Linked DNA regions of Homo sapiens: region 2 is linked to region 1. Evidence: fine-mapped expression QTL. Tissue or cell type: cultured neurons. Region 1 holds a variant in brackets; the other region holds the start of a gene. All regions are shown on one strand. Distances are between the middles of the regions.

Region 1 (2,909 bases):
GGCTTCCTTAGAGGCTGAACATAGGTACCAACTTAAATATCTGGATTTGGATAAAGGGAGAGTTGAAGGCTGAGGGGGAAACAAAGTTCAGGACATCACTGAACAGATGCTTGGGTTAAAAAAAAAAAAAAAATGGCCGGGCACGATGGCTCACGTCTGTAATCCCAGCACTTTGGGAGGTCAAGGCAGGTGGATCACGAGGTCAGGAGTTCAAAACCAGCGCGGCCAACATGGTGAAACCTCGTCTCTACTAAAAATACAAAAAATTAGCCAGGCGTGGTGGCAGGCACCTGTAATCCCAGCTACTTGGGAGGCTGAGGCAGGAGAATTGCTTGAACCTGGGAGGCAGAGGTTGCAGTGACCCTAGACTGTACCACTGCCCTCCAGCCTGGGCAACAGAGCAAGACTGTCTCAAAAAAAGAAAACAAAAACAAAAAACTGGCACTTTTGTTACCTAAGCCAGCTCTGTGTGAGCTGCCAACAGTTGGATAAGCTGCTGGTTAATGAAAGTTGTAAGTGGGAAGTTGGCAGGCCACTTATTTCCTGGAATAAAGAAGGGGATGCCTGCCCTGGATAAATGGTTATGCTCTGCCTTCAAACTCCAATGCCTGTAGACCCTCCCATTTAAGAGAAATGTCACCAGAGTTAAAAAGAGTGCCTCCAGGAGGGTCCAGGGGAATTCCCAGGCTTGAGCTATGGAGGGGGTGTTGAGTGATGATGTGGCTTCCTCCTTTCTCATAAGCCTGGTACAAAAAATTGCTGGTTAGATTGTGCAGGAACATATGGGAAACAATGAGGGCCTAACATGAGAAAGGGTGACAGGGTAGGGGGGAAGATGGGAAATTGCCACGGAATCTAAGCTCAGTGAAGTTCTGACACCTCACTTGTACCCCAGTGGAAGCTCCAGAGTTAGCGATGACCCCAGTTCCTCTCTTGAAGATGATGTCCTGACTTGAGATAGAGAGATGGTATTTCACTAGGCAAACAGTATGCTACCCCCTCAGCTCACAGGAGTCACTTGCCCTTGAGTCAAGGAAGTAAACGAAATATCAAATGCTAACATTTGTTTCTCTGATTGAGACCCTCTCCAAAAGACATGATATTCCTGCAAACTGGCAAATTGCCATAAAGGAAGTAATATTCAAACTACAGTCCGGTCTCTACTGTCTACAGATCAGAATGCTGGGTGAGTTTTTCTTCTCCAGGAGTCTTAGATTCTCGTCTAGACAGTCACTGAGGTTGCTGTGACAGACAAGTTCAGGTCTCTTAGCTGGATAATGTGGGGGTGTCTAGAAATATGTTACTTGTTACTCTTTTTTTTTTTTTTTAATTGAAATGGGGTCTCACTCTGTCACCCAGGCTGGAGTGCAGTGGTGTAATCTCGGCTTGCTGTAACCTCTGCCTCCCAGGCTCAAGTGATCCTCCCACTTCAGCCTCCCAAGTAGCTGTGACTACAGGTATACACCACCATGCCCAGCTAATTTTTTT[A/TA]TATTTTTAGTAGGGACGGGGTTTCGCCATGTTGGCCAGGGTGGTCTCAAATTCCTGGCCTCAAGTGATCCACTGCCTCAGCCTCCCAAAGTGCTGGAATTACAGGCATGAGCCACCACGCCTGGCCTGTTATTTCATTTTTAATCCCTTAAGTCTTGTCAATATGAAGTCACCAATGTCCTAGCTTAGTAGTCTAAACAATTTCTTTTTCTTCCCTGAGACTGAGTCTCACTTTGTCACCCAGGCTGGAGTGCAGTGGCATGATCTTGGCTCACTGCAACCTCTGCCTCCCAGGTTCAAGTGATTCTTCTGCCTCAGCCTCCCGAGTAGCTGGGATTACAGGCGCATGCCATCGCACCTGGCTAATTTTTTTTGTTTTTTTTTTTAGATGGAGTCTCACTCCTGCCAGGCTGGAGTGCAGTGGCGCGATCTTGGCTCACTGCAACCTCCGACTCCTGGGTTCAAGCGATTCTTGTACCTCAGCCTCCCAATTAGCTGGGATTACAGGCGCCTGCCACCACGCCCAGCTAATTTTTGTATTTTTAGTAGAGACAGGGTTTCACCATGTTAGCCAGGATGGTCTCGATTTCCTGACCTCATGATCTGCCCCGCTTAGCCTCCCAAAGTGCTGGAATTACAGGCATGAGCCACTGCACCCGGCTAATTTTTGTATTTTTAGTAGAGACTGGGCTTTACCATGTCAGCCAGGCCAGTCTTCACCTCCTGACCTCAGGTGATCTGCTCGCCTTGGCCTCCCAAAGTGCTGGGATTACAGGCGTGAGCCACCACGCCCAGCCATGCTATGCCTTTTATATGAAAGAGATTCTCTAGTTAAAGAAGTTACTCAGATGTGGTGACCTTGAAAATGAGCCTCTCAGATCTCCAGCTGTGGGGAACATGATTGACCTCTGTTTGATCTGCTGAGCACTGAAATCTACAACTGCATTCATCCCAAGGATCCTCCTAGTCTTGACTAAGAGTGATAGGGCTACTGACGCAGGCCCATTTCTGGAAGACTCAGTGACAGGTAACTTTTGCATGAGGACTATCCTATGGCCTTGGCCAACTTTCTTTTTTTTTTTTTTTTTTTGGAGACGGAGTTTTGGTCTTATTGCCCAGGCTGGAGATCTTGGCTCACTGCAACCTCCGCCTTCTGGGTTCAAGTGATTCTCCTGCCTCAGCCTCCCGAGTAGCTGGGAATACAGGTATGCACCACCATGCCCGGATAATTTTTTGTGTGTTTTTAGTAGAGACGGGGTTTCTCCATGTTGGTCAGGCTGGTCTCGAACTCTCGACCTCAGGTGATCTGCCTGCCTTGGCCTCCCAAAGTGCTGGGATTACAGGCGTCAGCCACCGTGCCGGACCTTGGCTGACTTTCTTAGAAATGAATTTCAGTTTAAGTTGAGTCTTAGATGTTTCCA
Region 2 (2,909 bases), 50 kb before region 1:
GAAGCGTGCACCCTTTTGCTTGGAGTTCTTCTTGACCCTCTTGTAGATTCCCTAGTTAATAATGCCTGCAGAGGTCCGCCTTTTGAAGATCCACTTGTCCATTCAGTCCCAGTTATTCCAGCTTGAGAATAGCTCTCCTTGTGCTCAACTCTTCTTTGCTTGAGGGTTACTGGAGTCTTTACTCCCCTGTTTAGCGGTTCTCTCTTCTCAAACTTGAGCCCAATTTAGAGTCTTCTTCATTTTCACCATATCTGTCAGAATCATTACTTCCATTCTGCCTTGTATTTTCTGCTGAAGAAGAAATTGTTGCTGAAGGAGACGATCTTGATTCTGTTCCTTGCTCCCTCAGTTTCAAAAGCTATTTCTCATACAGCTTCCTGGTTGTTCCCACAATAGGACCACAATTCACTCCGTATTTCACAAGCTGATCCAAAGGATCTTCATTAGTGAGTTCTGTTACATCTAGATCGTCTTTATCATCTTGTCTGGGTTTATCAGTTTTCTTTGTGGCTTTCCTGCCGGCGGCGGGCTCGGAGCCGAGACGGCTGTGGGCTCGCGCTCCTCGTACGTAGCTGGAGAATTCCGGGGGCCCCTTTCTTTTGGCGCTGGCGGCGAGCGGCGGCCCTAACAAGTGATTTGAGACTGTTCAGTAGCTCAGATCCCTTGCAGCGGTTTGAGATTGAAGAGATTATGTAGGCAAAGTATTTTGCGTGAGCTCTTCAACCCCATGAGAGGATACATATGAACTGGACTGTCCTACGCCTCTTTACAGGCTCCGAAATTCAAAATATTGAAATATTTTGAAATTATTCGATTAGCTGCTATCCTTTGGATACAGATAACTCCTTCACTAAAGCGTTAGGGATAAGCAGCAGGAGTCAGTTTTAATATCATCATCCCCATTCCAAAATGGACCGAGAAATCATATAACTTTCTCCCGCCAGAAAGTTCAAATAAAACGCGCTAAAAAAAAAAAAAAAAACCAAACAAAAAAAAAACAAAAAAACCTCCCATTTTTTCCGGGGCGGGTGCAAGGTGACGGACGTAGATTCCTGCCAATTGTAGGAGGCTTCCTCAAGCGCGGTCCCGCCTCGTCAGGACGAACTACCAGCCAATGAGAGCACCGCTGCTTCAGCTATCGGGGGACCCATTGAAGAAGAAGAGTGGGTATTGGCCACAGCGTAGGGCTTCTGTCCAATAGGAGCATGCCTGCCGGCGGCTCTGGCGGGAGCTTGAGCGGCTCCGGAAGTGGCAGTTGGCGTAGGTGCATTCGGAGTGCGGCCGAGGTAACTACCGAGTCTTCGGCGGGCTCGCGAGCCCGGCCGCGGCCTGCTGGTTTCAGGTGAGGAGGGGTGTTGCTTCTCCTCAGGCCTTGGGCCTCTAGCTTCGGGATAAACCTCCCCACGCCTGATTCCTGGATTGGGATTCAGGAGACACCCCACGAGGTGGGCTGCACGCGGGCTTGGAACCCGGCGGCCTGAGGGGATTCGGGCCCTCGGGGCGGCGCCAGTGGTCGGGGCTAAGGAGCCCGAACCCCCGCGCGTATCTGGGTTGCTGGGCGTGGGGGCTGGGCAGGCGAGAGCTCGGGGCGATCACTGAAGGAGCCGAGTTCGCTGCTGCGGGGCCTGCCCTGGCCGGGGTGGGAGGTCGCCCGGCCCTTCCCCCGAGAGCCTAGCCTCGGGCTCCTCAGCGGCGTTGCCTGCGCCCGCTCTGAGCGCCGATTACTTCATCACTTTAAAGTTGATGGAAGAACTTCATTTTTAATTTCATCACGGAAACTGTGGAGTAAAGACTTGTATTATCCCTGTTTTACAGGAGAACAAGTTGAGCCGAGTTTAGGAAACCCGCCCAAAGTTTCCCCATGTAGTAAAAGAACAGGGATTTAATATCTATGTATCTAATCAATCTATCTATCTATCTATCTATCTATCTATCTATCTATCTAATCTGTCTATCTAATCTATCTATGTCTTTCTTTCCCCATGTAGTAAAAGAACAGGGATTTAATTTCCTTCTTTCCCTCTCTCCCTTCCCCTCCCGTCTCCCTCTCCCTCCTCTTCCCCCTCCGCCTCTCCCTCTCCCTCTCTCTTCCTCCCTTTTTCCTGTTATAAAGAGAAAAAGGTGTTATAAAGAGAAAAGCGGTGGCTCAGGCCTGTAATCCCAGCACTTTGGGAGGCCGAGGCAGTCGGATCACCTGAGGCCAGGAGTTCGAGACCAGCCTGACCAACATGGAGAAACCCCATTTCCCAGCTACTCGGGAGGCTGAGGCAGGAGAATCGCTTGAACCCGGGAGGCCGAGGTTGCAGTGAGCTGAGATCACGCCATTGCACTCCAGCCTGGGCAACAAGAGTGAAACTCCATCTCAAAAAAAGAAAGAAAGAAAGAAAGAAAAGTCTCCCTGTTGCACCCAGGCTGGAAGAGCTCACTGCAGTCTCGAACTCCCGGGCCCCAGGGATCCTCCCACCTCGGCTTCCCGCAATAGCTGGGACCACAGGTGCGCGCCACCACGCCCGGCTCATTGTTTTATTTTTCTTTTTTCTTTCTTTTTTTGAGATAGAGTCTCGCTTTGTTGCCCCTGCTGGAGTGCAGTGGTGCGATCTCGGCTCACTGCAACCTCTGCCTCCCGGGTTCAAGCGATTCTCCTGCCTCAGCCTCCCAAGTAGCTGGGATTACAGGCATGCGCCACCACACCCGGGTAGTTTTTGTATTTTTAGTGGAGACGGGGTTTCACCATATTGGCCATTCTGGGACTCCGACCTCAAGTGGTCTGCCCTCGGCTTCCCAAAGTGCTGGGATTACAGGTGTGAGCCACCGCGCCTGACCTGTTCTATTTTTCTTTTTTGGTAGAGATGGGAATTTCACTGTGTTGCCCAAGCTGGTCTGGAACACCAGAGCGTAAGTGATCCATC

Alleles and levels. Alleles are on the strand shown, and positions count from the first base shown. SD is a standard deviation of normalised expression in the study named.
In carriers of allele TA in region 1, the expression in cultured neurons of the gene that starts at base 1,251 in region 2 tends to be lower than with A alone (moderate effect, 0.66 SD a copy in Aygun 2021).

The links. PIP is the estimated chance that this variant, and not a neighbour inherited with it, causes the effect.
Region 2: RFWD3 starts here. The variant in region 1 is fine-mapped to the expression of RFWD3 in cultured neurons (Aygun 2021, PIP 0.95).

Annotation. Positions count from the first base shown.
Region 1 is chr16:74,615,185-74,618,093 of GRCh38, reverse strand. No RefSeq gene overlaps it. Among named protein-coding and RNA genes, the nearest start is that of GLG1, 9.5 kb to the right of the region's middle. The variant A/TA (reference allele first, on the strand shown) is at 1,489.
Region 2 is chr16:74,665,219-74,668,127 of GRCh38, reverse strand. RFWD3 (ring finger and WD repeat domain 3) reads left to right here and starts at 1,251. Exons shown (of 13, transcript NM_018124.4): 1 at 1,251-1,342. It also overlaps the pseudogene TMPOP2. RefSeq lists a silencer at 1,572-1,721.